5 separate regions of the Homo sapiens genome follow, and regions 1, 2, 4 and 5 are each linked to region 3. The links come from fine-mapping of genetic effects on gene expression. A gene starts in region 3. Each other region holds a variant in brackets. All regions are shown on one strand. Distances are from middle to middle.

Region 1 (5,103 bases), 690 kb after region 3:
TCAATGAATGTAGAGGTGATATTCAAGACAACAATACCATAAAGAAGGGCAGAGGGGCCTAGAAAGCAGTAGAGTTTCTACATTCCACTTGAATTGGCAAAAGGTTGATACTAGCCAATGATCATAAGTATGTATAATATAATCTCTACAGCCACCTATAAAATCCTATACAAAAATATATACTAAATGGCATACTGAATTGATTTAGCATGGCATATGAAGTTAAATGGCATACTAAGAAATGTCTAAGTACCCCATAAAAAGGCAAGAAAAGGGAAACAGGTATAAAAAAACCCAGAGGGAACAAGTAGAAAATAGATAATAAAAACCCGTCCAAAATTAAATATAAATCTTCTAAACACAGCAATCAAAAAGGTTGTTGGAATCTGTTTTTTTAAAAATGACTCATGGCCAAGTGTGGTAGCTTATGCCTATAATCCCAGCACATTAGGGGGCCGAGGCGGAGGGAATCACTTGAGCTCAGGAGTTTGAGACCAGCCTGGGCATGATAGCGAGACCCCATCTCCACAAAAAGAATAAGAAAAAAAAAGATTAGCCAGGCATGGTGGCACATACCTATAGTCCCAGCTACTCGGGAGGCTGAGGTGAGAGAATCACTCAAGCCCAGGAGGTCAAGGCTGCAGTGGGCCGTGACTGCACCACTGCACTCCAGCCAACAGAGTAAGACTCTGTCTCAATAAATAAATAAATATCAATAGTCACATAAGATGGCAGAGTAGGAAGCTGTAGTGTAGAGATCAGTCCCTTCACTAAAGCAACCACTGAGCTAGAAAGAGTGATTGGAATCAGCTCTTTTGGAATTCTGAAACATGACCAGGAACTCCTAACAACCAGAGACATACTTAAACAATGAAGAGAGAGGCTGCTGATCTTCACGAGTGAGTGGCATGTGCCAACCAGCCAACACTCCCCCATTCCTGAGCCTGAGTTCCCGAAGCAGCTGGCTGATGCCAGGGCGAGCAGCGGAACTCTGTCCTCCAAAACCATGGGTTCTGCACCTTGGTGGGTCCAATGGGTCTCTGAGGACCAGCCCGGATGCTTGCCTTGGTTTATTTGGCCCTCTCAGCAACAGTGGCTTCCCCAGGGACATCCTTCAGAAGATTTTATCAAAGAGACAAAATCCTCCTCTGCCCCACCCCATTTAAAGCCATCTATTTAAGGAAATCCATGTTAGGTGGCTGGCTGACTGCAGAGATAATGAAACAAATTTCAGTGACCACACAAGCACAAGGAAGAAACACTTTGCAAAAATAGTTTGGAAAAGTAACAAAAGGGGAGCTTCAGACCTCAACAAGCAAAACCCAGCAATCCCAGGTGACTGAGAGAATCACATTTTGAGGGTCATTACATTGTAACACTTAAAATGCAACGTTCTCAACAAAAAACCACAAAATATACAAAGAAACAGGAAATAGGAAGCTTAGACCATTCACAGGAAAAAAACAGCAAAGAAAATCAGCAAACAATACAATAACTGAACACCATCATCGACCAATGGAACCTAACTGACATTTACAGGAGACTTCACACACTAACAGCAGGGTACACATTCTTTGCCCATGGAAGATTCAGCAAGATTTACCAGAACCTGGGTCATAAAACAAATGTTTTTCTGAGATGGAGTCTCTTTCTGTCGCCCAGGCTGGAGTGCAGAGGTGCAATCGGCTTACTGCAACCTCCGCCTCCTGGGTTCAAGCAATTTTCCTGCCTCAGCTTCCAAGTAGCTGGGATTACAGGCATGCACCACCACGCCTGGCTAATTTTTGTGTTTTTCAGACAGGGTTTTGCCATGTTGGCCAGGCTGGTCTCAAACTCCTGACCTCAGGTGATCTACCTGCCTCGGCCTCCCAAAGTGATGGGATTACAGGTGTGAGCCACCATGCCCGGCCAAAACAAATCTTAAGAAATGTAAAATAACTGAAATCATACAAAATACGTTCTGTGACTGTAAAATAATTAAACTAAATCAATTTTAAAAAGAAACCAGAAAATCTCTAAACACATGGAAATTAAATACACTTCTAAATAATTCATGGGTCAAAGAGTGAGTCGCAAGGGAAACTGGAAAACATATTGAATTATGTAAAAGTGAAAATATAACATGTTGACTGGTATCAGCAAAAATGGCAGAGTAGGTATCTCCAAGTCCCCATCCCCCCACAGAAACATTGATAAACCAAGCAAAACTGTCTGAATCAACTTCATGAGAACTGTAGAAAAATAATCAAAGGTTTACAATAACCAGATCATCTGATGTGGCTCTTTGTCCCCAAGCACATCTCATCCTGAATTGTAATCCCCAGGGGTCAAGGA[G/C]GGACCTGGTGGAAGGTGACTGGATCACGGGCGCGGTTTGCCCTATGCTGTTCTCGTGATAGTGAGGGAGTTCTCACGAGATCTGATGGTTTTTAAGTGGCAGTTTCCCCTGCACTCTCCCCTCTCTCCTGCCAGCCAGTGAAGAGGGTACTTGCTTCTTGTTAGCTTTCCACCATGATTGTAAGTCTCCTGAGGCCTCCCCAGCCAAGTGGAACTGTGAGTCAATTAAACCTCCTTTCTTTATAAATTACCCAGGCTCAGGCAGTTCTTTCCAGCAGTGTGAAAACTGACTAATACTCCAAATGAACACTGAATCAAGAAAAAAGCAACTTCAAAATGGTAGGAAAACTGGGTTATTTTACTTGCCCTTGCCCCACAACCTTCCATGGTTCAGTGGGAACCTTGAAGATGGCAGCCCACATTCCCAGTGTGGTTTCTGGTATTGAAGGCAGCAGAGCAGACCTTATTCTCAAAGCATTTTGTTTTCCCGTTCTCAGCTGCCTGAGGGCTGCCAAAAGAACTGATACAGGGCAGCTGCCTTTGTTTCACCTAACCCAGAACTCACACAGGGCAGAAAAGTGGCTACACAGAGGGTATTCCTTGAAAACACTGTAAATCAAATGCATACCCTGCTGATGCCTAGGCAAAAGATTACAGTTGAGGCAAACTATAGGTGTGCTGACAGCATGGGAGAAGAAGCTGTGGAGAGTTTCTATGGGAAATTTGGGTACTGAAATTCAGACCTGCCCTTGTGTACTATGGAATTTCAGTAGCCATGCACATGCTGAGTGCAGAGCACATTCTCAGAATAGACCTGAGAAAGGATGCTGAGCTTTCATCTGTGGCTCCTCTCCATCCTCCCTGCAGGCAGGGAGTAAAGCCTAGGGCAAAGCTGTACACAGACTGGGCCGGGTGCGGTGGCTCACGCCTGTAATCCCAGCACTTTGGGAGGCTGAGGCGGGTAGATCACTTGAGGCCAGGAGTTTGAGACCAGCCTGGCCAACATAGTGAAACCCCGTCTCTACTAAAAAATACAAAAGTAAGCCGGGTGTGGTGGAAAATTAGCCAGGTGTGGTGACACAAGCCTGTAATCCCTGCTACTCAGGATGCTCAGGCAGAGAATCACTTGAACCTGGGAGGCAGAGGCTGCAGTGAGCCAAGATCGTGCCATTGTACTTCAGCCTAGGCGACAGGGCAAGACTCCACCTCAAAAAAATAAATAAAAAGTTGTACACAGACTGGCTAAGCCCTGAAGGACTGCTCCAGTGCCCCAGCACAGTGGCAATCCACAAAGATGGAAAGAGCTGGGTTTTTCTTTTTTTTTTTTTTTTTTTTACCTTTGGCATCTGGCATTCAAGGAAATCTCTGTTAAAACACTAGTTGAACACAAGCTAACGGCAGAGAGACTTTCAGAGACCGCACATGTAAAAGAAGACACACTTTGCAAAAATGTTTAGAAAGTCACTGAACAAACAGCTACAGCCCACAGCAAAAGCAAACCCAGGGGTGGTGGGGAGGATAAAATAATTTCCAGTTACCCCATTATAATACTCAAAATGTCTGATTTCCTTTTTTGAGACGGAGTCTTAGCTCTGTCATCCAGACTGGAGGGCAGTGGTGCGATCTCGGCTCACTGCAACCTCCACCTCCCTGGTTCAAGCAATTCCCCTGCCTCAACCTCCTGAGTAGCTGGGATTATAGGGGCATGCTACCATGTCTGACTGTTTTTGGATTTTTAGTAGAGATGGGATTTCACCATGTTGGCCAGACTGGTCCTGAACTTCTGACCTCAGGCAATCTGCCCACCTCGGCCTCCCAAAAGTGCTGGGATTACAGGCGTGAGGCACCACGCCTGGACTCTTTTTTTCTTTTTAATTTTACTTTTTCTTTTTTTGGGGAAAAGGGATTAGAGGTGTGAGTCACTGTGCCTGACTCCAATTTTCAAAAAAAAATTACAAACCATGCAGTGACATTAAGAGAGTACAGCCCATTCACAAAAGAAACAAATTGTCTTTAAGGAAGCACAGACATTGAAAGTACTAGACAAAGACTTTAAATCAGCTGTCTGAAATCTGCTCAAAAAGCTAAAAGAAACGATGAATAAAGAGTTAAAGGATACAAGGAGAACAATGTCTCAACAAATGCAGAACATCAATAAAGAAATAGAAAATATTATAGACAGGTGAGGGGCAGTGGCTCATGCCTGTAATTCCAGCACTTTGGGAGGCTGAGGCGGGCAGATCACCTGGGGCCAGGATTTGAAGACCAGCCTCAGCAACATGGCGAAACCCCCTCTCTACAAAAAATGCAAACAATCAGCCAAGTGTGGTGGCATGCGCCTGTAGTCCCAGCCACTTGGGAGGCTGAGGTGGGAGAATTGCCTGAGCATGAGAAGTCAAGGCTGCAGTGAGCCAAGATTGCACCACTGCACTCCAGCCTGGGTGACAGAGTGAGACCCTGTCTCAATAAAAGAATTTATTATAGACAAACTAAAGCTTAGAGAAAAAAAGAAAGGAAAAAAATAGAAATTATTGAAAGGAATCAAAGTCTGAAGCTGAAAAGTATACAAAAATTAGCCAGGCATGGTGGCGGGCACCTGTAATCCCAGCTACTCGAGAGGCTGAGACAGGAGAATTGCTTGAACCCAGGAGACAGAGGTTGCAGTGAGCCAAGATCGCACCATTGCACTCCAGTCTGGGTGACAAGAACGAAACTCCATCTCAAAAAAAAAAAAAAAAAAAAAAAAAAGTATAGAAATGGAAATGAAAA
Region 2 (5,103 bases), 170 kb before region 3:
AGGTGGAGAAAATAACTAGAGGGTCAGCCAGTCGGGTGGACGAGGGGTTCTGGAGAGTCAGGGGTCAGGGTGGTCCCAGGATCTGGCTCTAACCGTCCACCCAGGGCCCAGAATGAGGCCTGTGGCTTGGAGGGACTGAGTTCTGAATCAGCTGAGGAAATGGTCAAAACTTTAGTCCAGGGCTTCTGCCAGTCCTCAGGGTCAGTCCCATCCATGCCCAGAGCTGGGAGGAAGGCCCCATCCCAGCCTTCCAGACCACACTTCCTCCTGGAAAGACGCTAGAAACCACGTGCCTGGCACAGCCACCCCCTCTCCGCTGGTGCAAACCCCCCACCCAGTCAGCTGCCAGCCTCACCTTCCTCCCTCCCACCTCCTAGTGGCTCCCAGTGCCACCAGGCGCCTCCACTCCACCCTCAGCCCCTGCCCTGGGCCGGGCCCACTTTTTCCACTCCAGGATGGGGGCAGGAGTGACCTCCTCAACTGGCCACCACCTCCAAGCAGAAACTGCCTATGAAGTCAAGATGATCTGAAGAGTCCTTGCAGCTGCCACCTTGCCTTCAACCCTCACGTCCTGTAACCCATCCCCCACCCCCGATCCTGTGACTCTGGATTTAAAATCTGTTTTGCTTTCCTTGCACCCAGTGCAAGCATCTAGGTGCGGCGTTCCAGGCGCCTCGCAGGGGGTCGGGTCCCCAGCCTTCTGTCCCACCGTTCCGTCCCCCGGGCCCGGCCCACCTGGCGCCCCCTCCCGCCCGCCACCGCCCGCTGGCGCCTGTCGGTCGTCTAGACCCGCCGCCCCCGCTCCACCGCTCAGATCCGCGGCCAGAGCCGGAAGTGGCTCCTGCCCCGGCCGGGAGCGGCGGGGCTGAGACTGTGCCCGCGGGCACTGCCATCCCGTGCATGGAGAGGGCGCAGAGCCCGGGGGTAGGGCGGGCCGGGGAACCCGATCCTCCTTCATCCGCGCAAAGGCCCGCGAAGCTCCCAATCTGTTCTCTTTCAGGCTCACTGTGCAGATGGCGTGCAATTAAGTGGGTCGGTGCAGCAAACCCTCGTATCCTCCCGCTTCCCTAAAAGCAGAGGATTGAGCCGCTGCACTCCAGCCTGGGCAACACAGCGAGACCCTATGTCTTAAAGAAAGGGCAGAAGTGGGGACCCCTCTCCCACCCCCTTCCCCTGCTCCAAGCCAAAGCGTTTGAAGCAAGAGGTTGCCTCCTGTGAGTTTCCCCCAGTCCCTGGAGGCCTGGGCTTTGGGAGGTGTGTCCAGGCAGAGGACAGAGGTCTTGTGCAAAGGGCCGCTTTTCCCTTCGCCCACCCTGCGCCCGCCCAGCCCCTTATCCGATGGGAAAGCCTTACTGACTCTTTTCCTCGCAGAAGCGCCCAGATGCTGTTTATGCAACCTCTCCAGAATCTCAGTGTACTGTACTTTTTAAAAAGTGATTTGATTCAAAGCACTCATTCTTTAATTAAACTTCATTTAGCTGCCATCTGTCTCGGTTCGAAATGGCTTCGTGTTTTGCAACTCTAAATGAGAATTGTTATTGGATTTGTAAACACATCCCCAAAAAAATCACAAAACACTTTCAAAAGTAATAAATGAAGGACGGTTAGGAGCTGCATCTTAAACGTTCTAATTGCCGGGGAATGTATTCTGGTGGGTACACAGTCATTTTATATACAAATCATTGTACAAAAATCTGGTATCAATGAAAAGATCAAGATTATAGAAAATGCTGGAATTATATCTGACTGAAAACAGTAATAAAGCAATAATTGGCGCAGGGACGGGCCACAAAACGAGACGGGGCACCTGCTCCCCTCGGGCCACCCTCCCGCACCGCCCAGGTGCCTGGCTTGGTGCACTCAGGGGAGGGTTGGTCCTGAGCTCTCCTGGCTGGTGCTTCCAACGGCCCTGCGAGGTACCTCTTTTTAAGGAACCAAAGCGTTATTTATCTTCATTATTAATTATTACTTTTTTTTTTTCTAAAAGACAGGGTCTCGGCCGGTCGAGATGGCTCACACCTGTAATCCCAGCACTTTGGGAGGCTGAGGCGGGCGGATCACGAGGTCAAGAGTTCAAGACCAGCCTGGCCAACATAGTGAAACCCCGTCTCTACTAAAAAATACAAAAATTAGCTGGGCGTGGTGACGGATGCCTGTAATCCCAGCTACTCGGGAGGCTGAGGCAGGAGAATCGCTTGAAACCAGAAGGTGGAGGTTGCAGTGAGTGGAGATCGCACCGCTGCACACGCCAGCCTGGGCAACAGAGCAAAACTCCATCTCAAAAAAAAAAAAAAGGCCGGGTGCGGTGGCTCACACCTGTAATCCCAGCACCTTGGGAGGCCGAGGTGGGTGGATCACAAGGTCAGGAGATCAAGACCATACTGGCTAGCATGGTAAAACCCCGTCTCTACTAAAAAACATACAAAAAATTAGCCGGGCACCTGTAGTCCCAGCTACTCGGGAGGCTGAGGCAGGAGAATGGTGTGAACCCAGGAGGCGGAGCTTGCAGTGAGCTGAGATCGTGCCACTGCACTCCAGCCTGGGTGAGAGAGCAATACTGCATCTCAAAAAAAAAAAAAAAAGAGACAAGGTCTCTTTGTGTGGCCC[A/G]GGCTGGAATGCAGTGGCTCGATCATAGCTCACTGAAGCCTGGAACTCCTGGGCTCAAGTGATCCCCCCGCCTCGCCTCCCAACTGGCTGGGACTTCAGGCACATGCCACCATGCCCAGCTAATTTTTCTTATTGTAAAGACAGAAGTTCACTATGTTGCCCAGGCTGGTCTTAAACTCCTGGCCTCAAGGGATCCTCTCACTTGGGACTCACAAAATGCTGGGATTACAGGTGTGAGCCATTGCACTTGGCCACTGCCCTGTAATTTTTAAATTTCATCATCTTCCTAAAACTCATGGCTGGGCATGATGGTGGGCACCTGTAGTACCAGCTACTAAGGAGACCAAGGTGGGAGGCTCACCTGAGCCCAGGGATTCAAGGCTGCAGTGAGCTATAATTGTGCCACTGTACTCCAGCCTGGGCGACAGAGCAAGACCCTATCTCAAGTAAATAAATATCATTTTATTAATATCAAGTATCATTCGTTCTTTTTTTTTTTTTTTTTTTTTTTTTTTTTGAGGTGGAGTCTATTCTGTCACCCAGGCTGGAGTGCAGTATCGGGATCTTGGCTCACTGCAACCTCCGTCTCCCAGGGTCAAGTGATTCTCCTGCGTCAGACCCCTAAGCAGCTGGGATAACAGGCTTGCGCCACCACGCCTGGCTAATTTTTGTATTTTTAGTAGAGACAGTGTTTCACCATGTTGGCCAGGCTGGTCTTGAACTCCTGACCTCAAGTGATCCACCCGTCTCAGCCATCCAAAGTGCTGGGATTACAGGCGTGAGCCACTGCACCCAGCCTACAATAACTTATTTTTTCTGTCATTATTTTCTGCTTCTCTGCCTGCTTTATGCTTTATGATGTCAAGGACTGTGTCCATTTTATCCACCGTTCTATCCTAGCGCCTACGTCCAGGACATACAAGGTACTCACTAAATGTGAGCGAGTTGGTGAAAGAATATAAACTACACCGGTCTCCTGGAAAATAAGAGGGCCCTTAAATCTTTTTTTTTTTTTTTTTTTTTGAGACAGGGTCTCACTCTGTCACCCAGCTGGAGTGCAGTGGCGCGCTCCTAGCTCACTGCAGCCTCCAATTCCCAGACTGAAGTGATCCTCCTTCCACAGCCTCCCAAAGCACTAGAATTACAGGCACATGCCACTGCACCCAGCTGCCTTAACTCTTTTTTTTTTTTTTTGAGACGGAGTTTCACTCTTGTTGCCCAGGCTGGAGTGCAATGGTGCAATCTTGGCTCACAGCAACCTCCACCTCCCAGGTTCAAGTGATTCTCCCGCCTCAGCCTCCCGAGTAGCTGGGATTACAGGTATGTGCCACCACGCCCGGCTAATTTTGTATTTTTTAGTAGAGATGGGGTTTCTCCATGTTGGTCAGGCTGGTCTCGAACTCCTGACCTCAGGTGATCTGCCTGCCTCAGCCTCCCAAAGTGCTGTGATTACAGGCAAGAGCCACCACGCCCGGCCTGCCTTAACTCTTTAAATCCTCCTGCTCCAGTGATTCCAGTAACCTCCTTCCCCCAACCTCAGCCCCAGAATCCATCTGTAGGGGAACTATGACTTGTGCCTCCATCAGTAGAATTTGCTTTCTCTATTTCTGGTCATAAATTGGAACTCCATAGAAATCCTATATTTATTTATTTATTTATTTATTTATTTATTTATTTTTTGAGACGGTGTCTTGCTCTATCACCCAGGCTGGAGTACAGTGGCACAATCTCAGCTCACTGCAACCTCCACCTCCCAGGTTCAAGCGATTCTCCTGCCTCAGCCTCCCGAGTAGCTGGGATTACAGGCACCCGCCACCACGCCCGGCTAATTTTTGTATTTTTAGTAGAGACAGTGTTTCACCATGTTGGCCAGGCTGGTCTTGAACTCCTGACCTCAAGGGATCCGCCCACCTCAGCCTCCCAAAGTGCTGGGATTACAGGCATGAGCCACCATGCCCGGCCCATTACGCAAGAACTTTTATGTGCTCTGTTAATCCTCACAGCCCTGCAAAGTAAATATTATTTCTTCATTTCACAAATGAAGAATCTGAGGTTCAGAAAGATGAAGGGCTGAGTCCAGGGTTACACAACTAGAAAAGATGAAGCACCAGGCTTGGCTTCAGAGGAGACCGCCAGACTGACTCAGGCGGCTGAGCACTGCCCCAGGCGAACCCCGCAACTTGGGGCTGGACAGAGCTTCTCTTTCGGTTTCCCTAATGTGTTTGAAAGAGAGTAACAGAGGTACATTTGAAAAGAAAAACAGAGGGCCGGGCGCGGTGGCTCACGCCTGTAATCCCAGCACTTTGAGAGGCCAAGGCTGGCAGATCATGAGGTCAGGAGATTGAGACCATCCTGGCTAACATGGTGAAACCCCGTCTCTACTAAAAATACAAAAAATTAGCCGGGCGTGGTGGCAGGCGCCTGTAGTCCCAGCTACTCGGGAGGCTGAGGCAGGAGAATGGTGGGAACCCGGGAGGCGGAGCTTGCAGTGAGCTG
Region 3 (5,092 bases):
TAGCCGGACATGGTGGTGCACGCCTGTAATCCCAGCTATTTGGGAGGCTGAGGCAGGAGAATTGCTTGTACCCGGAAGGTGAAGGTTGCAGTGAGCCGAGATCATGCCACTGCATACCAGCCTGGGGGACAGAAAGAGACTCTGTCTCAAAAAAAAAAAAAAGAAAAAAAGAAGTGAAGCACTTGCCAAGCAAATCTTTCAGAGCAGGTGGAGTGGACCCTACACCTCTTGGATAATAAATGCACTGGATAATAAAAGCAGGAACAGGCCAGGTGCGGTGGCATGTGCCTGTAGTCCCAACCTACTGGGGAGGCCAAGGCAGGAGGACTGCTTGAGCCCAGGAGTTGGAGGCTGCAGTGAGTTATGACCAGGCAACTGCACTCCAGCCTGGGTGACAGATAGAGACCCTGTCTTTAAAAAAAAAAAAAAAAAAAAAAGGGCCAAGCACAGTGGCTCATGCCTGTAATCCCAACACTTTGGGAGGCTGAGGTGGGTGGATCTCCTGAGCTCAGGAGTTCAAGACCAGCCTGGCCAACAGGGTGATACCCCTTCTCTACTAAAAATACAAAATTAGCCAGGCGTGGTGGCGCACACCTGTAATCCCAGCTACTTGGGAAGCTGAGGCAGGAGAATCGCTTGAACCTGGAAGGCAGAGGTTGCAGTGAGCCGAGATTGTGCCACTGCACTCCAGCTTGGGCAACAAGAGCGAAACTTCGCTTCAAACAAATAAATTAACGCCCAGCATGTCTTGGCTTTCATCTGCCAGACCTCAACCCTCACCCCCAGGAGATCAGGTCCGGACCATGAGCTGACCCTGGACTCAGGCAAGGGTGAGTTGGTGCAGCCCTGGCCTGCTGGGAGGCACAGGCTGCAGCAGGCTGCCTGGGGCTGAGGCCCGCCACTCATGAACTCATGACCTTGAATGAGCTCCAAAAGCTCTGGGCCTCCCAGGCTCTAGGGGGAGTGGGAGAGAGAGGCCTCAGCCTGTCCCTGGGCATGCTGCCCCCTCCTCACCTCTTTGTCCCAAATCCCCTTCCTGGCAAAGCTGACAGTCTTAATATCACTCTGGAGAAAACTGAGTCAGCCCTAAGGAACAATTCAATGAACCATTTGCTTACTTGAGGATTGGAACTCAAGTCTCACTCAAAGTCTGTGCCATTTTCGTCCCAGCTGTCACTGGCCCTCATCCACACACACCCAAGGATGAGCATCTAACGCTTGCATGCACACTCCCATGCCCGCGTTCATTCACTCATTCATTCATTCATTCACTCATTCATTGACTCATTCATTCATTCACTCACTCATTCATTCACTCAGTGAATGTTGCAGTCACGATCCAAATATTTATGGCCTCTGTGTGCCAGGCACTAGATGGAGGGGCTGGGGCTAGAGCCCCTGATAACCCGGTCATGCCCTAGCTTTCCTGGGACACACATTGTGGTAAGGGGAGACTAAAAAAATTAAGTCAGGCCAGGCACGGTGGCTCATGCCTGAATCCCAGCACTTTGGGAGGCCGAGGCGAGTGAATTACCTGAGGTCAGGAGTTCAAGACCAGCCTGGCCAACATGGAGAAACCCAGTCTCTAATTAAAAAAAAAAAAAATTAACCAGGTGTGGTGGCACATGCCTGTAATCCCAGCTACTCAGGAGACTAACGCAAGAGAATTGCTTGAACCCAGGAGGCAGAGGTTGCGGTGAGCCGAGATCGCGCCATTGCACTCCAGCCTGGGAAACAAGAGCGAGACTCCATCTCAAAAAAAAAAAAGTGGGAGGCAGAGGCAGGAGGATCACTAGAGGCCAGTAGTTTGAGACCATCCTGGGCAACATAGCAGGACCCTGTCTGTACAAAAAAATTAAAAAAAATTTAACCGGGCATGGTGGCACACACCCGTAGTCCCAGCTACTCCAGAGGCTGAGGCAGGAGGATCGCTGGAGCCCAGGAGTTGGAGGCTGCAGTGAACTGTGATCCCACCACTGCACTTAAGCCTGGATAACAAAGCAAGACCCTGTCTCAAATAACAATAGCAATAATAATAAAGAAAAATTAAATGCAATTTGCGATGCATCAGTGATAAGTGCTCTGCAGAAAAAGGAGGCAGGAAGAGGCTGAGAAAGGTATGAGGTTTGCTATGCAATGTGAAGTTATCAAGGAAGGCTTCTCGGAAGAGGTGACATTTGAGCAGAGAAATGGAGGAGAGTTATGGAGGGAAGATGGTGAATGGGGGGAACATGGTCAAGACCAGGAATATGGTCAAGGGGGGAAAGATGGTCAAGGGGACGCAGCAAATGCAAAGGCCCTGAGGCAGGAGCAGCTTGATTCACCCCCAAAACCCGTGGGGCCCGTGCAGGCGACGGGAAGGACAAGTGTAAACCCTTTTCCTTGTCCCTGCAGGTGTGTGTGAACATGAGTCTGCCCATGTTTACACCCTGCAAGCCTGAAGAGTCCCCAGAAACTGAAAGAAGAAGCAAAGCCCTTTCTGTACCCTCCCTGCCCCCTGTCCCGACCGCGACAAAAGCGACTTCCTCTTTCCAGTGCATTTAAGGCGCAGCCTGGAAGTGCCAGGGAGCACTGGAGGCCACCCAGTCATGGGGGACACCTTCATCCGTCACATCGCCCTGCTGGGCTTTGAGAAGCGCTTCGTACCCAGCCAGCACTATGTGAGTAGCTGGTGGAGGGCATCCCGTGGGGGGAATACGGGAGGGACAGCACGGCCACCCTTGCAGTCCCAGGGCCAACCAGCTCCAGTGAGGACTAACGGGGCAGGGTCTTGGGCACCTGGTCCCTGGTCTTTGAGCCTGGATCTACCCCTCTGATCCCTGGGAAGACAGTTCCCTTGGACCCGCCCTGGGCCCCAGCCCTTTACTGTCCCCGCCTGTGTCCCCAGCCAGGCCCTCAGCCTTAGCCAGGAGTCCTCTTTCTGCTCCCCTGCCATGGCCAGGCAGCCCAGCGCTCTCTCAGGTCCGAGGCCCACTCCTCCAGGAAGCCTTCCCTGACTAGCCCAGCTATCAGAGAGTGGCCCTCCCAAGAGGGAGGCCTGGAAACTAAAGCTCTCTCTCTCCCCAGCTGCCTGTAGTGTCAGTTAGAGTCTTATCCTCTCCAGTAGGGTGACACCATGACAGGGGCCAATAGAGTCCTCCCATCTGTCCCCAAGGAGGCTGGACAAATGCCTGCTCAGACACACAAGTCCACTGGGTCCCCTAATCCCATAGGAAGGCCAGGGAGGAACTACATTTAGGAAATTGAAGCTTGTATGGAACATTTAGTCCTATGTGCCAAGACCTTTCTCTTTTTTGTTATTTTTTTGTTTTTTGAGACAGAGTCTTGATCTGTTGCCCAGGCCAGAGTGCAGTGGCACGATCTCAGCTCACTGCAACCTCCGCCTTCCAGGTTCAACTGGTTCTCCTGCCTCAGCCTCCAGAGTAGTTGGGATTACAGGTGCCCACCACCACGCCTGGCTAATTTTTGTATTTTTAGTAGAGACAGGGTTTCACCATGTTGGCCAGACTGGTCTCAAACTCCTGACCTCAAGTGATCCACCCACCTGGGCCTCCCAAAGTGCTGGGATTACAGGCATGAGCCACCGTGCCTGGCCTGTTTTTTTGAAATGAGGTCTGGAGTGCAGTGGTGCGATCATAGTTCACTGCAGCCTCGACCTCCCAGGCCCAAGTGATCCTCCTGCCTCAGCCCCTTGAGTAGCTGGGGCTACAGGCGCACACCACCATGCCTGGCTAGTTTTTAAAATTTTTGTGGAGATGAGGTTTCACTATGTTGTCCAGGCTAATCTTGAACTCCTCGGCTTAAGCAACCCTCTGGTCTCAGCCTCCCACAGTGCTAGGATTACAAGCGTGAGCTACCGTGCCTAGTCACTTTTCTCCTTTTCTTTGTAACTTTCAGTTTTGAAATTTCAAATTTACAGAAAGGCTACTGGGTGTCAAAACGGTACCAGTCACTCCAATAGTCTTTCACTCACCTTCATCCACACCTCTCTTTCTGGGGATATTTTCTGAATTATTTGAGAGTGAGTTGAAGACGTGTTTCTTTACCTCTAAATACTAGTTGTTGGGCATTTCTTAAAATCAAGGCATTCTCTTACATAATCACAACACACGTGTCAAAATCAGGAAATTAACATGGACAAAACACCATTATCCACCCACAGACTTTACTGAGGTTTCCCCGATTATCCTGCTTGTCCTCTGCAGTGAAAACTTTTTTCAGGTCTAGGATCCAGTCAAGGATCAATGTCATAGCCTTTAACCTTCTTTAATCTGGATCAGTCTTTTTTCTTTTTCTTTTTCTTTTTTTGGACACGGAATCTCACTCTGTCGCCAGACTGGAGTGCAGTGGTGCAATCTCGGCTCATTGCAACCTCTGCCTCCTGGGTTCAAGAGATTCTCCTGCCTCAGCCTCCTGAGTAGCTGGGAATACAGGTGCGCGCCACCATGCCCAGCTCGCATTTTTTGGTAGAGACAGGGTTTTGCCATATTGATTCTGGATCAGTCTTTTTTTTTTTTTTATGAGATGGAGTCTTACTCTGTCACCCAGGCTGGAGTGCAATGGCACAATCTCCACTCACTGCATCCTCCGCCTCCCAGGTTCAAGCAATTCTCGTGCCTCAGCCTCCCGAGTAGCTGGGATTACAGGCATGCGCCACCATGCCCGGCTACTTTTTGTATTTTTAGTAGAGACAGGGTTTCACCATGTTAGCCAGGCTGATCTCGAACTCCTGACGTCAGGTGATCTGCCCGCCTCGACCTCCCAAAGTGCTGGGATTACAGGCGTGAGCCACCGTGCCAGCGGATTCTGGATCGGTCTTAATCAGTCTTTGTCTTTTGCAACTTTGATGTTTTGCAGAGAGCAGACCAGTTACCTTGTAGAATGTCCCTTAGTTTGGGTTTATCTTCATTAGATTCAGTTTGTGTATCCAGGGCAGTGGATCTTAGATGCAATTCTGTCTTCTTTTTAATTTTTTTGAGAGGGAGTCTCGCTCTGTCACCCAGGCTGGAGTGCAGTGGCACAACCTCAGCTCACTGCAGCCTCCGCCTCCCGGGTTCAAGCAATTATCCTGTCCCAGCCTCCCAAGTAGCTG
Region 4 (5,103 bases), 360 kb after region 3:
CTGTAGACTTTATAAAGCGATATGGATTGCTACCAGCTGCCAGCAGGCTCCTGAGAGCTGGTCCTCAATTGGTCCTTATTTCTTGTGATATGTGTGTAGCATTTGCTACAAAAACAAACCATCTCCCTGGTTTTAATTTATTTTCTCTTTCTTTCTTTCTTTCTTTCTTTCTTTCTTTCTTTCTTTCTTTCTTTCTTTCTTTCCTTCTTTCTTTCTTTCCTTCTTTCTTTCTTTCTCTCCTTCCTTCCTTCCTTTCTTTCTTTCTTGTCTTGCCAGGCTGGAGTGCAGTGGCACGACCTCAGCTCACTGCAACCTCTGCCTCCCAGGTTCAAGTGATTCTCCTGTCTCAGCCTCCTGAGTAGCTGGAATCATAGGTGCACGCCGTCACACCTGGCTAATTTTTTTGTATTTTAGTAGAGGCAGGGTTTCACCGTGTTGCCCAGGCTGGTCTCAAACTCCTGAACTCAGGTAATCCACCCTCCTCGGCCTCCCAAAGTGCTAGGATTACAGACATGAGCCACCGCACCAGGCCAATTTTTTTTTCTTTTCTTGAGACAGAGTCTCGCTGTCGCCCAGACTGGAGTACAGTGGTGTGATCTCAGCTCACTGCAACTTCCGCCCCCCGGGTTCAAGTGATTCTCCTGCTTCAGCCTTCTGAGTAGCTGGGATTACAGGTGCCCACCACCACACCTGGCTGGTTTTTGTATTTTTAATAGAGACGGGGTTTCACCCTGTTGTTCAGGCTAGTCTCGAACTCCTGACCTTAAATGATCTGCCTACCTTAGCCTCCCAAAGTGCTGGGATTACAGGTCTGAGCCACTGTCCCCAGCTGAAAATCAGATTTTTAAATGTTTAGCTTCACTGTCCTTATACCAACAGAGCTGTTAAAGGTTTTCAGACGACCCCTCAGAACTTATAAATTATGTTAAACAATGAACCCCAAGCTATGCCACAGTTTTTTTGTTTTGCTATTACAAACATTCATGGTTAAATTACATGTACATTTTAGTATCAGTCATCTATTGCTGTATTTAAAAGTACCCCTGAAATGAGGCTGGGTGTGGTGGCTCACGCCTGCAATCCCAGCACTTTGGGAGGCCAAGGCAGGCGGATCACCTGAGGTCAGGAGTTGGAGACCAGCCTGGCCAACGTGGTGAAACCTTGTCTCCACTAAACATACAAAAATTAGCCAGGCGTAGTGGTGCGCATCTGTAGTCCCAGCTACTTGGGAGGCTGAGGCAGGAGAATCACTTGAACCTGGGAGGTGGAGGCTGCAGTGAGCCAAGATCATGCCATTGCACTCCAGCCTGGGCTGGAAAGAGAAGGGGAAGGGCTCCAATGGAATGGAATGGAATATTTAGTCTTTCCTACATTTCTGTGTGTTGGCTGGACTGGCTCAGCAAGGGCCGGATGGCTGTGTGTCTGAGGCCCCGGCTGGGACATCAGGGTCTCTCTCCTTGTGGCCTCATACCCTTTGGAGGCACCCTAGGCTGGCTCCCATGGTGATGAGGTTCTAGAAGCAGCAGGCACAGATGATCAAGCTCTTCTCAAGCCTCTCTTTGCATCCCATCGGCTGATGTCCCATTGACCAAAGCAAGTCACACAGCCAGGGCCAGATTTAAAGGGCAGAGAATGGCCTGGCGCCGTGGTTTACAGCTGTAATCCCAACATTTTGGGAGGCCAAGGCAGGCAAATTGCTTGAGTCCAGGAGTTCGAGACCAGCCTGAGTAACATGGTGAAACCTCATGTCTACAAAAAATACAAAAATTAGGCAGGCGTGGTGATGCATGCCTATAGTCAGCTACTCAGGAGGCTGAGACAGGAGGATCGCTTGAGCCCAGGAGACAGAGGTTGCAGTGAGCCATGATCATGCCACTGCACTCCACTGGGCAACAGAGCAAGACTCTGTCTCAAAAAATAATAACAAAATGGCAGAGAAACAGACTTTACTTCTAGAAAAGAAGCATGGGATAGTCACATTGCAAAGGGATGTACATCCTGGGATGGGAGAGGTC[T/C]TGAGCTAATTTTTGCAGCCAACCGCACCCTTCTCTGATAAAGGCGTTAGGTTGTACTGATATAGCTTCTCCAGGTTTTGAAATCCATTCCATTATAGTGAGTAAGTTAAGATTATAAGTGCCTAGCCGGGCACGGTGGCTTATGCCTGTAATCCCAGCACTTTGAGAGACCAAGGTGGGTGGGTGGATCACCTGAGGTCAGGAGTTTGAGACCAGCCCGGCCTACATGGTGAAACCCCGTCTTTACTGAAAATACAAAAATTAGCCAGGCATGGTGGCGTGGGCCACTTGGGAGGCTGAGGCAGGAGGGTCACTTGAACCTGGGAGGTGGATGTTGCAGTGAGCCGAGATCATGCCACTGCACTCCAGCCTGGGCAACAGAGTGAGACTCTGTCTCAAAAAAAAAAAAAAATGGTTATATATGTCAGTTCAGGCTTCATGACAGAAGAATCTTCACAGCATTTCATGTAAATGCACGTGGATATTCAGCCACCCTGAAGGGGAAAATCTCCCAAAACTAGGACTAGAATCAGAACTAAGCTCTCCCGCCTTCACGATGCCTTCCTTCATCCTCCTCTCCTTCCTTCTTTTTTTTTTTTTTTTTTTTTTTTTGAGATGGAGTCTCGCTTTGTCAACCAGCTGGAGTGCAGTGGCTCGATCTCAGCTCACTGCAACCTCCACCTCCTGGGTTCAAGCAATTCTCCTGCCTCAGCCTCCCATGTGGCTGGCTACAGGCGTCCGCCACCACTCCCAGCTAATTTTTGTAGTTTTAGTAGAGACAGGGTTTCACCATGTTAGCCAGGTTGGTCTCAAACTCCTGACCTCAAGTGATCTGCCCGCCTCAGCCTTCCAAAGTACTGGTATTGGAGGCATGAGTCACCGTGCCCGGTCCCCTCCTTCCTTCTTTCCTTTTCTATTGATTTTACAATTGATATTATTTTTATATAAACATACATAAATACACAAATGTATGTTTTCTATATGTATATTATTTTAATTTATAGTATTTCTATTTTTGTATCAAGAGGTCAAATTTGTTCATAGTGAGTGAGCTACAAGTTCTTTTGCTGATTGTAACATTGCTGTATTAATCAACTTATATTAGCTAGTCGTATTTCTTTGTTGGCAAACTTAACCTAACATACAATTTTATCATTTCCATTACATTCCAAGGCATTTCACTGAAAGCAGAAGCTGTCTCAGTCAAGAAAGAATCAGAAGATCCTAATTACTATCAATATAATATGCAAGGTAATACTGTTTGATAATAATTTTCTTCCCCAAAAGTTATTTGGGATGGAAGATTTTAATTACTACCTGTCTGAAAAACTGGCGAGCACCCATGTGTGTTTACCTAGGATCAAGCATGCTGCCATTTAGAGTAAATAATCCTACAGTTATAAAATAGATTCTATTTAGCCTAAATCCATGTACTCTTTTGTTTGTTTTTTTACAGAGATGAGGTCTCACCTTGTTGCCCAAGCTGTTCTCTAACTCCTGGGCTTAAGTAGTCCTCCAGCCTTGGCCTCCAGAAGTGCTGAGATTATAGGCGTGAGCCACCATGCCTGGGCTAAATCCACATACTCTTTTTTTTTTTTTGAGACAGAATCTCACTCTGTTGCCCAAGCTGGAGTTCAGTGGCACTATTTCCACTTACTGCAAACTCTGCCTCCTGGGTTCAAATGATTCTTGTGCCTCAGCCTCCCAAGGAGGTGGGATTACAGGCGTGTGCCACCACGCCTGGCTAATTTTTTGTATTATTAGTAGAGACGGGGTTTCGCCATGTTGGCCAGGCTGGTCTCGAACTCCTGACCTCAGGTGATCCACTCACCTTGGCCTCCCAAAATGCTGGGATTACAGGCATGAGCCGCCACACCTGACCCATAAGGCTTTTAAAAAGAAGTCATAAATTGTCACGACTGTCATGATTTTGCACCACCTAATGAAGCAGTGCATCTTGGCAATAATTGTCAGTGGTCATTAAAACCATTTTATAAAAGTCTGATGGGGACTTTATCATGGGCAGACCTGACTGACAGTTCCTGAACTGACTGGTCACTGGTCTCCTGACGGTATCCAGTAGGAAGTACACCACACCACCTTTGTCAAGGATTCTTCCAAAAAAAAAAAAAAAAATCAAACCTGGCCAGGTGTAGTGTCTCATACCTGTAATCCCAGCACTTTGGGAGGCCAAGGCAGGTGTATGACTTGAGCCCAGGAGTTCAAAACCAGCCTGGGCAACATGGTGAGACGCCGTCTCTACAAAAAATACAAAAAGTAGCCGGGCATGGTGGCACACACCTGTAGCCCCAGCTACTTGGGAGGCTGAGGTGGGAAGATCGCTTGAGTCTGGGAGGTCAAGGCTGCAGCGAGCTGTGATCACACCACTGCACTCCAGCCTGGGTGCTGGAGTGAAACTCTCTCTCAAAACAACAACAAAACAAAACAAAACAATCAGACCTAAGTCTGATCCAGCCTTTAGATCTAACCAGCAGTTTTTAGGAGATGCATGGAATACAGGCACATATGAAAACATCACCACAAGGATGTAGTCAATAAAATCCAGAATGTGAGAAACTCAGAGAAATTAATTGGTTTATGTTTTTTTTGTTTGTTTTTTTTTAGACAGAGTCTCGCTCTGTCGCCCAGGCTGGAATGCAGTGGCGTGATCATGGCTCACTGCAACCTTCACCTCCCAGGTTCAAGTGATTCTCCTGGCTCGGCCTCAAGAATAGCTGAGATTACAGGCATGTGCCACCACACTCGGTTGATTTTTGTATTTTTTTGTAGAGAAGGGGTCTCACCATGTTGGCCAGGCTGGTCTCGAACTCCTGACCTCAGGTGATCTGCCCGCCTCCACCTCCCAGAGTGCTGAGATTACAGGCGTGAGTTACCGCGCGCAGCCAGTTTTATTTCAAGGGGTAGAAGTATTTCAGGTGTATTCCTGCGTGGGTATTGACTTGTTTGCATTGTATTCAGTGATTTCTTTTTACATTTTTGTATTTCTCCTTTGTTATATATTATTTATTTTTCTTTCAGGAAGCCACCCTTCTTCCACAAGCAATGAAGTAATAGAAATGGAATTACC
Region 5 (5,103 bases), 280 kb after region 3:
AGGCGCACACCACCACACCCAGCTAATTTCTGTATTTTTTGTAGAAAAGGGATCTCACTATGTTGCCTAGGCTAGTCTCGAACTCCTGGGCTTTGAGGGATCCTCTCATCTTGGCCTCCCAAAGTGCTGGGATTACAAGCATGAGCCACTGCACCCAGCTAGCCCTTAGGTGTTTAATAGAACAATTCGGCCTGGCTCCCCAAAATGCTAGCAGACCACAGGATAAACCAACCAACTCTAATTCCCAGATGGCTATCTGCAAATGCCAGGCACACAGGCAGGAAGACAGCTAGGCTCTGTCTACCAACAGGCAGTAACTCACCCTTAGAAGGAGGCCTGTTAAGTCTCGGGGAGAAATCCAGAAAGGAATTTCATTTCGCTGTGACCTGAAATGGCTACATGGCATGAGGGCAAATAGAAAAGCCTCTGCTCTAGTCAAATGCTTCACACAGATTTCTAAACATGTGTCTCTGCCCATAGTTGAGGCCTTAAGAACTTTCTGGAAAGTAGATATTTGTTTCCCCCAAAATTAGTCCATACGACTCTTATTTATCAAATCAAAATAGCTTTAAGAATTCATGACACTGAATTAGCCGGGCGTGGTGGTGTGTGCCTGTAATCCCAGCTACTTGGGAGGCTGAGGCAGGAGAATCGTTTGAACTCGGGAGGCGGAGGTTGCAGTGAGCCAAGATCGCGCCATTGCACTCCAGCCTGGGCAACAAGAGTGAGACTCCAACTCAAAAAAAAAGAATTCATGAGACCTACACTCAGCTGCAAATGCAAGTGGCCACTCTGGCTGGGCAGTGGCCAGGAATTCTCTGGCTTAGTCATGACCACTGCCACTTCAGTGCTTCAGCCTAGAGCCAGATAAAACTCCAGCTGGCAGCCATAACAACCCAGGCCTGCCTGTTTGACGGCCTCTGGAGCCTGGAATTCAGACAATAAGTGAATAGCAGTTAGGACCCTGGTACAGAGGGTGAGCATCTGGGACAGGCCCCACGTGGGAATGAGGCCAGAGAACTCAACCAAAGATGACACCAACTGACTGTCCCGGCCTGGATGTTTAAAAAGAAAACAATTACTTGCCATGAGATGAAAAGATTCTTTTAATTGCAAGGAAATAACTAATTTACTTGAGAATCACAGAATGAAATTAATTCAGGACAGTTTTACTATTCGAGTCAACTAAAGAGCAGCAAATTGAACCCACGGTAACTGTGGTGGAGTAAGAGATGTAACCAAGAAAAGGACACATTCCTTACCCTTACCCTGCAGGGTAAGCGGATATTCTGTGGCTTTGTAATCTGGCAGGCCTTTGGGAAAAACCTCCATTTTGCTCTCCCCTTTCATCATTCTCTACCCCGGCACTTTGGAGAAATCGGTAGATTTACCTCCGTGAAACCACGGGACAGTCTGACAAATCGGCCTTTTGCCATCCCATATCCTGGGTCAGATCAGGGTCTGGGCTCGGCCAGGGAATGGGATTAAGCCCCACACATTCACTTCCTAATCACCCACCCATGGATCCGCCAAGCCTCTGCTGGTTTCCTCCAGCACCCGACGTACTAGCAATGCCCCTTCCTACCACCGACGGGTGCTCTCTTGAGAAAATGCACGTTCACGTTAGCCTACCCACAAACCAAACGAACCAAAATTAAAACTCCAGGGGGGGAAAACAAGACATTATACAACCTCGAGGCAAACAACTTCTGGCTTAGCCCTTGCTTGAGTTATCAGTACAAAGGCGCCGTTCTGTTGGATGGGTGGAACCTGAGAGCTGCCCGCAGTTTGGGGTTGAACTGGAGACAGAGAACCTCTGCTGGGCTCACACCAGGGCCACCGGGCTTGGTAACTTACTGGTCAGTGCAGCAAAGTGGCTGAGTCCACATCGGATGCGGGAAACCTGGATTTCTGGGTTGAACTCCGTCAAGCCAAAGAGAGTGGGTGGAATCATTTCAGGGACGGCACTTTCCACTAGGTTTGGACCTTTCCCAAGAATTCCATAGCCCCAGACAAAAACATGTCCTTCTCCTACATTACAGTAAAAACAAGGGTCAGTAAGTCCATCCAAGTAAGAACCTCCCTCACCAGAAACTCAAACTACACCACCAAGGTTTATGACATCCACACGGTTTTTTTTTGTTTTTTTTTTGTTTTGTTTTTTTCCTCCTTGCTTGGCAAGAACATGCAGACAGAGATTTAGAATAATAATTCTCTCTCCCCTGCTTAAATTCTTGCTGGGGGAGTCTGTCTCGCCAGCTCTCCTGGCTCAGAACACAAACTTCCCACATCTTGAGGGTTAGTAACCTGGAAGGGACGAGCGTATAAATCATCCAGAAAACCCATACGAATACCAGAGAATTGGAGGATGTTTTCTCCCCCTAATGACAGCTCTGTGTTTCACACTGATCAGAAGGCCAAACACATCAACAATGTCTGGCCAGATTCTTAAAACTCTTAGAAATGATGTTTTGGTTATAGAAAGTTTAATATTCATCAGTGGTGCCAGATATTTCATCGTTATCCAAAGCTGAAGGCTGTTCTCCCATCTGCCTTTGATTTTTTGGCTGGAGAAGGCAGAGCTGGAGTCTCTCTGGCCCAGGCTAAGGGAGGGGAATGAAGTAGTTCGCTCTCCACTCCAGAGGTTTGCTCTAGGATGACTCAGCTCTGTGGCCATGTATCTACAGATAAATCGCAGACTATTCGCTTTTTGTTAAGAACTTCATTCACACCCTGTAATGCCATCTTCTAATCCAATGCCATCTTCCCATGGCCATAGTCCCTTCCTTTTTTGAAACAGGGTCTCACCGTGTTGCCCAGTGCAGTGGCATGATCATAGCTCACTGCAGCTCGAACTCCTGGGCTCAAGGGACCTTTCTGC[C/T]TCAGCCTTCTGAGTAGCTGGGACTACAGGTGTGCACCACCATGCCCAGCTAATTTTTCATTTTTTCTTTTTCTATTGAGACAGAGTCATCCAGGCTGGAGTGCAGTGGCGCAATCTCGGCTCACTACAACCTCTGCCTCCTGGGTCCAAGCAATCCTCCCACCTTAGCCTTCCAAGTACTAGGATTACAAGCATGTACCACCATGTCTGGCTAATTTTTCTATTTTTAGTAGAGTCAGGGTTTCACCACGTTGGCCAGGCTGGTCTTGAACTCCTGACCTCAGGTGATCTGCCTGCCTTGGCCTCCCAAAGTGCTGAGATTACAGGTGTGAGCCACCACACCCAGCCTTCCAGCTAATTTCTCCATTTTTTGGTAGAGACAGGGTCTCGTTATGTTGTCCAGGCTGGTCTGGAACTCCTGGCCTCAAGCAATCCTCCTGCATCAGTTCCCCAAAGTGCTGGGATTACAGATGTGAGCCACCGCGCCCAGCCATGTTACCCTCCTAAGGCTAAGGTCTACGGCCTGCAAATCCAATGGACACTGACCACTCCCTATGTAATCTACCTACAGCTTCCCAATGAGCCACCGGAAAGAAGGTCTCACCGTTTAACACTGCACAGCCCGTGCCACCGCATGCAGCCTGTCGCACCTTCCCCACTCCTGAGAAGTGTAAGCAGCGGGGCACATTCACCTGAACCAAAGAAAGGAGCCACACTGTTAGGAAAGCAAGCCAGTAAGGACCGGGAAGTGTTCTGGTCTTAGGTACAGAGTAGCTGAGTCCTAGTTCATTCATTCACTCCACAGATACTTCCTGAACATCACATGCCAAGCATCATACTAGGTGCTGGGGTAGAATGGGAAGCAAAAGAGGCCCAGTTTCCACCCTCAGAGAGTTCTAGTCTAGTGGACGAGGCAGATGTCAACCAAAATTAACATAAAATGACATTTGTGGCCGGGTGTGGTGGCTCACGCCTGTAATCCTAGCACTCTGGGAGGCGGAGGCAGGTGGATCACTTGAGGTCAGGAGTTCGAGACCAGCCTGGCCAACATGGTGAAACCCTGTCTCTATTAAAAATACAAAAGTTAGCTGGGCGTGGTGGCAAGTGCCTGTAGTCCCAGCTACTCGGGGGGCTGAGCCAGGAGAATTGCTTGTACCCAGGAGGTGGAGGTGGTATTTTTGTATTTTTTTTTAGTAGAGACGGGGTTTCACCAGGTTGGCCAGGCTGGTCTCGAACTCCTGACCTCAGGTGATCTGCCTGCCTTGGCCTCCCAAAGCGCTGGGATTACAGGCGTGAGCCACCACGCCCAGCCTATTTGCTCTTTTTTTTCGAGACAGAGTCTTGCTCTGTCACCCAGGCTGGAATGTGGTGGCACGATCTCAGCTCACTGCAATCTGCAAGCGATTCAATTCTCATGCCTCAGCCTCCCCAGTACCTGGGATTACAGGCATGCACCACCACACCTGGCTAATTTTTGTATTTTTTTGGTAGAGATGGGGTTTTGCCATGTTGCCCAGGCTGGTCCTGAACTCCTGACCTCAAGCCATCTGCCTGTCTCGGCCTTCCAAAGTGCTGGGATTACAGGTGTGAGCCACCACACCCGGCCCCTTAACACTTTAATGTTTCCAAACCTCCCAGCACCACGCTGTCGGCGACTGCATACCTGTGTGGAGTCAGTGACAGAGGCCAGCTGCAGGTACTCCGAGTTTCCCCAACCAAAAAGTCCTCCGTCGGCGGACACGGCCAGGCAGCAATCACCGTAGGTGGCAACTTGGATAACGTTCACTCCCGCCAGGTCTCCACCCAGCTTGGTGGGCGAGCTGGTGATATTGTAGTGACCCAGACCTAACACAGTGGAAAATACAGATTTTTAATTATTCGCTCTTTTAACAAACACATAGGCAGACTTACTATATGCCAAGTGCAGTTTTAAGCACTTAACAAGTATCAGCTCAGAAATCCCAGTCTGGGGCTGGGTGCAGTGGCTCACGCCTGTAATCCCACCACTTTCAGAGGCTGAGATGGGCAGATCACTTGAGGTCAGGAGTTCGAGATCAGCCTGGTCAACATGGCGAAACCCTGTCTCTACTTAAAAAAAAAAAAAAAAATTACAAAAAAATTATTAGGGCATAATGGTACATGCCTGTAATCTCAGCTACTCAGAAGGCTGAGGCACAAGAATCACTTGAACCTAGGAGGTGGAGGTTCCAGTTAAGCCAAGA

Alleles and levels. Alleles are on the strand shown, and positions count from the first base shown. SD is a standard deviation of normalised expression in the study named. Not every link is listed here.
For the expression in spleen of the gene that starts at base 2,568 in region 3, allele T in region 4 goes with a lower level than allele C (large effect, 1.2 SD a copy in GTEx).

What was found. PIP is the estimated chance that this variant, and not a neighbour inherited with it, causes the effect. A credible set is the group of variants that fine-mapping cannot tell apart.
Region 1: its variant is the best candidate, but not a certain one, in a credible set for the expression of NCF1 in whole blood (INTERVAL, PIP 0.80).
Region 2: its variant is the best candidate, but not a certain one, in a credible set for the expression of NCF1 in whole blood (INTERVAL, PIP 0.52).
Region 4: its variant is the best candidate, but not a certain one, in a credible set for the expression of NCF1 in spleen (GTEx, PIP 0.66).
Region 5: its variant is the best candidate, but not a certain one, in a credible set for the expression of NCF1 in whole blood (TOPMed, PIP 0.58).

The regions. Positions count from the first base shown.
Region 1 is chr7:75,459,801-75,464,903 of GRCh38, forward strand. All of the region lies in intron 3 of POM121C (POM121 transmembrane nucleoporin C), which reads right to left. Among named protein-coding and RNA genes, the nearest start is that of POM121C, 24 kb to the right of the region's middle. The variant G/C (reference allele first, on the strand shown) is at 2,335.
Region 2 is chr7:74,605,818-74,610,920 of GRCh38, forward strand. No RefSeq gene overlaps it. Among named protein-coding and RNA genes, the nearest start is that of MIR10525, 12 kb to the left of the region's middle. RefSeq lists a silencer at 681-1,090. The variant A/G (reference allele first, on the strand shown) is at 2,608.
Region 3 is chr7:74,771,444-74,776,535 of GRCh38, forward strand. It overlaps NCF1 (neutrophil cytosolic factor 1), which reads left to right and starts at 2,568. Exons shown (of 11, transcript NM_000265.7): 1 at 2,568-2,660. The coding sequence starts at 2,589. RefSeq lists an enhancer at 849-1,394.
Region 4 is chr7:75,129,947-75,135,049 of GRCh38, forward strand. It overlaps GTF2IRD2B (GTF2I repeat domain containing 2B), which reads left to right. Exons shown (of 16, transcript NM_001003795.3): 9 at 3,189-3,266; 10 at 5,055-5,103. Among named protein-coding and RNA genes, the nearest start is that of GTF2IRD2B, 40 kb to the left of the region's middle. The variant T/C (reference allele first, on the strand shown) is at 2,016.
Region 5 is chr7:75,054,044-75,059,146 of GRCh38, forward strand. It overlaps RCC1L (RCC1 like), which reads right to left. Exons shown (of 11, transcript NM_030798.5): 7 at 4,545-4,726; 8 at 3,486-3,573; 9 at 1,858-2,031. Among named protein-coding and RNA genes, the nearest start is that of RCC1L, 17 kb to the right of the region's middle. The variant C/T (reference allele first, on the strand shown) is at 2,882.